Linked DNA regions of Homo sapiens. The protein of the gene in region 1 purifies or fractionates together with the protein of each later gene. This does not show direct contact. Each region holds a gene or a part of one and is shown on either strand. Other genes may lie near its edges. The genes, in order: KIF12 and MMADHC.

Region 1 (3,915 bases):
AGCACACACCCGTTTGCAAAAGTTCCATCAGGGCCTCCAGACTCCCAAATTCCACCACCCGCAGCTGCTCCACATAGAAGCCCCGAGTCTTGTTCCAGCGAACAGGGAGGGGCCGGGGAGACCCCAGGCTCAGCAAGTCCCGAACCTGGGAGGGGAGGGAGGAGGGTGAGGGAAGGGGATCTTTCTGAGTCCACCCATCCCCAGATCTTACTGACAACAGTCCCCACCGCCTCTTCTGTCCTTTGATCCAGGCTCCCTGGAAAGAAGCGCTCCGTTTCCTCATGGGCTGTCTTTCTATTCCTCTCATTCCCTTACCTGCTCATTGTAGATCTCCAGATAAGAGGCGCGAAGGGTGACAGGGGCACCCAGGTGCTGCACGCGGTCCAACAGCCAGGCGAAGGTCCTCTGCATGATGCCAGCCAGGCTGGGGGGTACAGGCACCCCCTCCCCCTAGGGGCAAAACCAGCTGAGCCATCGTCATCTCCACAGTAATAACTACCCTCTGTAGCGCATGTATGATACCGTGCGCCGGGAAACGTGCCAAGTTCCCAAACAATGGCTCATTTAATTCATAGTCGGTACTGTCACTTCCATTTTACAGATGAGAAAACTGAGAGCTAGGAAGGGGCCAAAGTTGAAGCCCAAATGCTCCAAATTGGGCAAGTCCCTTCTCTTTGGTCCTCAGCGTCCTCGTCTGCAAACAAGCGGGTCAGGCGGCGTCGTCCCAGCCCCTTCCCTCTGGGAGTCTGCGCCGCCTGCGGCTCCCCAGGGCTTCCAGCCCACCCAGCCCCGCCCCGCGGGGGCGCCGCCGGCGCTCGCTCACCTGGGGAGGGGGTCCAGTCAGGGTGTAGGTCTTCCCAGAGCCCGTCTGGCCAAAGGTGAAAACAGTGCAGGAGAAACTGCGGGCGGCAAGGGCGTGGCTGGACTCCGGCGGCTACCCGGGGTGGGGGCTGGGGGTGCTTCGGGGCCCCGCCAGGCCCGGCGCGGAGCGGAGGCGAAGCTTCACTCACCCGCGCAGCGCCAGCTCCCCCAGGCGCCGCACGCCGCACGCCCGGAACACGTCCTCCTGCGTGCGCGCCGCGTCTAGCACCGCACCGAAGCGGAACGCCACTTCTGGACCCCCGCCTGGAGGACTCACCTGGCGCGGGTGGGGCGGAGGAGCGGGGCACTCTGGAGGAGGGCGGGGCACCCTGGAGGGGCGGGGCACCGTGGAGGAGGGCGGGGCACGCGGGAGGAGGGCGGGGCACTCTGGAGGAGGGCGGGGCACCCTGGAGAAGGGTAGGGCGCTCGGTGAGGCACTCGGTGGGCGAGCACCCTGGGTTGGGGGTGGGGTGGGGGACACTCACTAGGGCCGGGGCATTCTGGGGAGGGTAGGACACCCTGGAGGGGCGGGGCATTCTGGGGGGGGCGGGCACCTTGGGTGGGCGGGCACTCAGAAGGGGCGGGGCACTCGCAGGGGTTGGCGCGGCGCACCCTGGCGGAGGGCTGGGCATCCTGGAAGGGAGGGGCACTCTGGGGAGGGCGGGGCACCTGGGAGAGGACCACTCCGGGGGAGCGCGGGGCCTAGGGCAAAGTTGCCTGGGGGAAGGGATCTGGCGTCCCCGGGATTTTTTATTGGGGAGATAGAGAGAGGGGTTCCTCACCTGCAGAGTCCGGGTCCCTGAGCAGTGCAGCACGCTCTGCTGCCCTCGACGCAGCTCGGCCGCGCTCATGGGACGTACCCTGGGGTCCGACAGAAGGGCAGATGGTACATCCTGATGTCTTCCTCGATCCTTGTCTCGCCCAGGTGCCTCCTAGCCAATTTATACCCACCTGAGCACCACCTGGATGGGCGTTTCCGGCCCCTCTGGCCCTTGCTCCAGGCTCCGCGCGAGATCCCTGTGGGCAGCAATGCGACTTATCATACCTGCACCTAGCGGCTGTTCAGGACTCCTCGAACCTGTCTGAAGATCTGCTTACCCGTCGGGTGACCCGCGTTCTTCCATGTCCTGCTCTGCACACGGAGTTAGCTCCGCCCGCGTCTCCTTTATTTACCCCCCACCAATACCCTCCCTTCTCCACAACACTGGGACTGTCTACACACATCTTGCATTCCCACCCCATCCCCCATCCCAGGCAGCCATCCATCCGGAAAGACTCCAGCTGCCCAGGGCTAGCTCGTTAAAGATTTACCCTTCCTCACCCCTGCGGTGGAGAAAGTCTCTCCCAAGCTAGGGGACCCCTAGCTAGGGGGTTCTGGAGTCTGAGGATCCCTTGCTCTTGGCCAGTCCTCACAAGAGGAACCCGTGGGACCACCCAGACCGGCCTCCTTTGTGCCCAGTTGGGGATACCTAAGCAGATAGGAAGGACTCAACCAAGGCCACAGAGCTAGCCTGCACAGGACCAAGCTTTTCCCACCCTCTCCACATACCCCCCACTCCCACCCCCAGCAGCTCAGCTCAGGGCCCAAGGAGTGGCACAGGTCTCAGTCAGCTCTAGGGACGACCTGGCTGGATTGAATCTCTGAGCTGACCTGAGAACAGGTTTCCAAGCATCTGGTAAAACACTGGGGCACCTGCCTCTCTAATGCCAAAGTTAATCCTAGGCCAGCATGATTGTTTAACCCTCTCCTGGTCTGGCTTATGAGAACAGCAGAGATGTCTGTGAATGTGCAGGGATGGGGCAATCACTTATTCTGTACCAGTCTCCATGCTGGGCACCAGGGCAGAGGAACCCCATGCAGCCCCTGACCCTTCCCAGCTCACAGTGTGTCTGGGGAGATGGATAAGTACAACCCAGCAGCGTGTAGGGCCTTTAGGGGGAGTACAGAGGCCTGTAGGAGCCAGTGGGGGTGGGGAGGAGGTGAGGGTATTCCAGGCAAAGCAAACAGGAGTCAGGATGGCCAGGGTGGGGTGGGGAGATGAGTGTGGCATGGAGAGGTAGTTTGAGGCTGGATCTAGCTTATGGTGGGCACATCAAGGAGTCTGGACTCACTCTTCAGGGAACCAGGAAGCCATTGAAGGGTTATAAACAGGGATGTGACACCATCAGGTTGGCATTGTTATTATTATTGTCATTCTGGCTGTCTTTGTATGTTCTCTGAATATTTCTGCAAACTCTCCGGCCCCCAAACACACATTAGGGTGAAAGCCCTAAAAATCACTTTTTCTCAATGTGACACATTCTATACCACCACAAATTACAGCCAACTATCAAAGCCACCCTGCTGGAGAATGGGCTGTCTTGGATGGCAGTGAGCTCCCCAGGCAATGGAGATGTATAAGAAAGAGCCATTTGACCTTTTGGTTATAGGACCCTCTAGCAGGGGCCACAGGGAAAGTTCTGTAGAACTAATAACCACTGCCCCCAGCTCTGCCACTAACTTGCCACAGTCTTGGCTTCTCTTGTTTCCTTCCTGTAAAAAGAGATTAATGACTTCTCTCCTATTTGACATAGTTGTTCTGAGATTTCAATGAGATGTGTCATTGAAAGTGAAAGTTGTAAATAATTACCTAAAAACAAAAATAAAAATTCCTAGATGATCTCTAAGTTCCCTTTCAACTCTGAAGTTCCTTAATCTATTTTTTGAGTCCTTGAGGTGGATAAGACAAAAATTACTATCCCTGTTTTTCAGAGGAAAAAAAACTGAACTAAACAGCGAAAGGCAGGGAAAGTTATCTAAGGAGAAAACAACAAATGGCAGAACTGAGAGTTTAAACCCAGAACTATGAGCTGTACATCCTGATGCTGCTTGCTATGGCAAGTTGCTTTTGTCAGGAGTAAACCCAGTAAATGAACAAGGTGCTCCTTTAAAAGCTGTTGAAAGTGTTAAAGACTATCAATCACTAGCATCTTAGTGTGCATTGGTTTAGTCAGATTGCTGGCCCTCCTCAGGCTGGACTGAGATGAGCCACGCTGAAGGGATTTTTGTTTTTT
Region 2 (3,915 bases), on another chromosome or scaffold:
CAGTGGATTTGACCATATGTTTACTGGTCATTTTAGGTTTTGTTTTCTGTGAAAGGCCTATTCATGTCCTTTTGTTTTCTGATTTTCTGTTGGGTTATCTTTTCCTATTGATCTATTATAAATTCTTTATATATTCCAGATACTAACATCTTATATAATTTGAATGGCAAAATCTTTCATTTATTATAAATATATGGTTAGTCTTTAGGTGATGTAAATTGGGGAGTAGTCAGAGAGTTAGAAAACTTGGGCAGGATGGAAGGCTCTGAATGCTCAAGTGAACTTAAATTACGTTGTAAGTAATGTGTGCCATGAAAAAAGGATTCCATGTCCAATATCTTTAGGACACATTAGGTTAAGTTTCTAAGAGTCTTTAATATTTTAGTGTGCCTTATAAGCCTCCAAGGCAGGAATATGGCATGTAGCATTTCTCAAACTTACCTACCACAGAGACTATCCCCCTACCCCCACTTTTTCTTTTTAACCTTGAACAAAGCTTCATGGCTTGAAGGTAGTCTGGGAACTACTGCTGAAAGCAATGAAAGATAACAGGTTTTTCAAGAAAGGGACATGGTTAAAATAATTTAGAATGATTAGCATGGTAGTGGTGTACCAAACAGGTTAGAAGAAACAGACTTTGTAGAAAGCAGGTAAGTTCAATAAACACTAACACATAAAAAGTACAAGGTACATTTATGAAATCTAGCAAAGAATGGGAAGAAATAATAATATGGTTTAACAGGACCAAAAGGAGATTTGTTTCAGGGAAGACTCTATGTTTGAAGACAGAAAGAAAAGTTTAAGAAGTAAGCTTTAGAAACCAGTACTTACTCTTTTTTCAATACTGTAGCTTTCTGACATAAATATATTTAGGCAGAGCTGTGATTCATTTTCAACTGAACAAACACAACTTTAGAAAAATCCATTAAGCCTTAAGAAGAAATATTAGAGGAAAATACAACTAAAAATGTTTTGAAACAATTATAAGTAAAGCAGTAACAACTTTCACTTACATATATCTGGAGGTGCAGCAGCCACATGAGACTCATCCGAACCTGATGATCCTGCAGTCGAAAAGGCTTTGGGATTGACAACCCTTTTAACTAAAGAGCAAAATCCTGGGAGATAGGAAACCAGTCTGGCTCTGTTACAAAGCACCTAGAAATGACACAAAATTAAAACTATTTGTTCTGAATATAAATGTTATACTTACATAGACAATCTCTGGCAAATCTTCACACTGCAAGGTTCTTTTAAAACCAACATTTATTCTACTTTTACTGAACACCTACTATATGAAAGCATTATATATATTTGTAATTTTAAAAATAAAAATAAAAATTAAAAAAACAAGTAATAAGTTAGTTTGGGTAAAAGCCTATGTACTTTTCAATAAAGGCTAGAATTCAAGAGTGCCACACATGAGAGAATAGACATCTAAAAGTTGTCTTATTTAGACACAACACTAAAAAGGTAGCACAACTAACAAGATTCTTCTATCCTCAATAAAGAACTCTCAAGACATCTCTTTGGACCAAAATCTGTTACTTTCGAACTTTTCTCTCTTCTTTTACTGCTATAAATTGCGCTAATTCTCTCCCATACTGTCCTTTCATTGTGGTTTCATGGCAATGTCTGCTTTTCTCCATTTCAGCACGTATCTTTGTGGTATATTTTTTTCTGCTTATATGTTCACTTACTAGACAGTGAGGTCATGTATTACAATGGATGAATGTGTAAATATCTTTCATTCATAAATTTTTTAACAATCTTTCATTCATAAATTTTTTAACAAAGTACTTGGGTCAGAACAATTTAATGCAGGGATTGGCGAACGATTTCCCAATACAGCCCACTGTTTTGGTAAATAAAGTTTTACTGTAACATAGACATACTAATTTATGTACTGCCTATGGTCACTTTCCCACGACAATGGCAGAGTTAAGTAGTTACAAGAGATATTCTGTGGCCCACAAAGCCTAAAATATGCACTATCCGGATATTTGTATTAAAAACACACATACACACAGACATTGGCAACTCTCAGTTTAGTGAAAAAGATGTAAAAACAAATATCAAATCATCTGTGAAATGCTATGAAAAGATCTGAATAATTGTTAAGAAATCCTTGGGAGAAAAGGTAATAAATTTCATGGAGGATATACTAAATTTTGAATACAGTAAAAATTTGCTTGGGAAAAGGTGCATTTCAATGAGTGACTTTCAGGAACAAAGGAATAAAGACATATTTCAAAGAGTGACAAATTCAGTGAGGGTAGGTATAAGAATGCAATTAAAAAAAGGTTTGAAATTGAACTTATGGGCAACTATAAAAGACTGTATATTTGACACAGATGGTAAAGGGCTTGTTACATCAAGATAGTAAGTCGGAATTTTAATTTGTAGGCAGGAAAGAGTCAGAGCAAACTGACAAAAACAAAGGCTGTTTTAAGAAATGTACCACTAAGGGCAGTATAAAAAATGGACTGGAGGAGGAGTAGAGAGGTGGTGTGAAAATCAGTTACCAGGATGTTGGAAAAATCCAGCCATCTGACACCTGAGAATTATTCTATTTCCTTTTCACAAAGTACAGTATTCTAATATCCAACCTATTTTTTCCTTCCTCCTTTGTCACTATGAGTGCATCTTAACTGGTCTTTTTGCCTTTCTGACATAATTTCCTACAAATTTACCCTCCCTTCCCTTACTCTACTTTTCAATTACATAAAAATATCTCCCCAACATTTCCCATTTCTCTTCATTCTTTATACTGCCATAAGAATTCTTCTGCTAAAAGATACTGTTTCCTTATCGTTCTAGAAAATTCTAGCAAATTCTTACTTTTTCTTTAAGACCTGGATAAATATAACCTCCTTTGTGATACGTGTCTCCAAAGCATTCTGTCAACCTGAAAATTTAGGCTGCCTCTCTTGGGGTCTGTACCCAACTTGCCCAAAGAAACAAAAATGGTAATTATTTGGCTTTTTACTTACTAAACAAACTCAGACTTTTGGGTGTTTATATAATACAAATTTACCTTTACAACTAAGGATATTTAAGAGAATGCCTCAGGATCTAAAGGAATCTAAAATTTCAAATTCCAAAAATATTTTCAGCAAGGGCTCAAAATAAGCAGCAGCAAAATAAAAGATTATCTGAAGGGGCCAATATTTGAGAGCATGTAATAGTAATAATCAATGTTGGACACTATGGGTCCAAGTTCTATAGTAAGTGCTGTACATATACATTGTTTTATTTAATTTTCATAACAATTCTATATACTGTTATTAGAACTAGTTTCAGCATGGTTAAACTACAATCTGCGATCATTCACATCGTTTCACAAGCAAAAAACAGAAGGAGGAGGAAGATCATCCAAATTATTTCAAAAATCGCCTATTATTTATTATTTTAGCCTGTCTATCAAGGCCATTAGATTATATTTTGACATTCTTTTCTTGGTGATAGAACTTTTAACAAAAGTTATATAATAAAATATGAGTTTTGTTCCTAGCCTAAGAAAATCCAATTACCAAATTTCATTTTAATAGCAAAATAAACCAGTATCTAAATTGCCCACTGAAAGCGACAGTTGATGATAGTACTAATCTGTTTCAAACCTTACCCGTTAACCTGTGAGATTCTCAAATCTTGGCTGGGTGCAGTGGCTCATGCCTGTAATCCCAGCACTTAGGGAGGCGAAGGTGGGTGGATTACCTGAGGTCTAGCCTGGCCAACATGGTGAAACCCCGTTTCTACTAAAAATACAAAAAAAGCCAATTAGCCGGGCATCGTGGCAAGTGCCTATAATCCCAGCTACTTAGGAGGCTGAGGCAGGAGAATTACTTGAACCCAGGAGCCAGGATTTCAGTGAGCAGAGATCCCGCCATTGCACTCCGGCCTGGGAAACAAGAG

The links.
Region 2: the proteins of KIF12 (region 1) and MMADHC purify together in Homo sapiens (affinity purification with mass spectrometry; 2 studies listed by BioGRID and IntAct, with this or other methods). This does not show direct contact.

Annotation. Positions count from the first base shown.
Region 1 is NC_000009.12:114,097,292-114,101,206, forward strand, and holds the start of KIF12 (kinesin-like protein KIF12), read right to left. Parts: upstream 2,002-3,915; 5' UTR 1,986-2,001; coding exon 1,960-1,985; exon of another isoform or gene 1,879-1,959; coding exon 1,813-1,878; exon of another isoform or gene 1,723-1,812; coding exon 1,644-1,722; intron 1,171-1,643; exon of another isoform or gene 1,139-1,170; coding exon 1,011-1,138; intron 900-1,010; coding exon 824-899; intron 451-823; coding exon 316-450; intron 146-315; coding exon 10-145; intron 1-9.
Region 2 is NC_000002.12:149,581,114-149,585,028, forward strand, and holds part of MMADHC (cobalamin trafficking protein CblD), read right to left. Parts: intron 1,159-3,915; coding exon 1,014-1,158; intron 1-1,013. UniProt on the Homo sapiens protein: Involved in cobalamin metabolism and trafficking. Plays a role in regulating the biosynthesis and the proportion of two coenzymes, methylcob(III)alamin (MeCbl) and 5'-deoxyadenosylcobalamin (AdoCbl). Promotes oxidation of cob(II)alamin bound to MMACHC.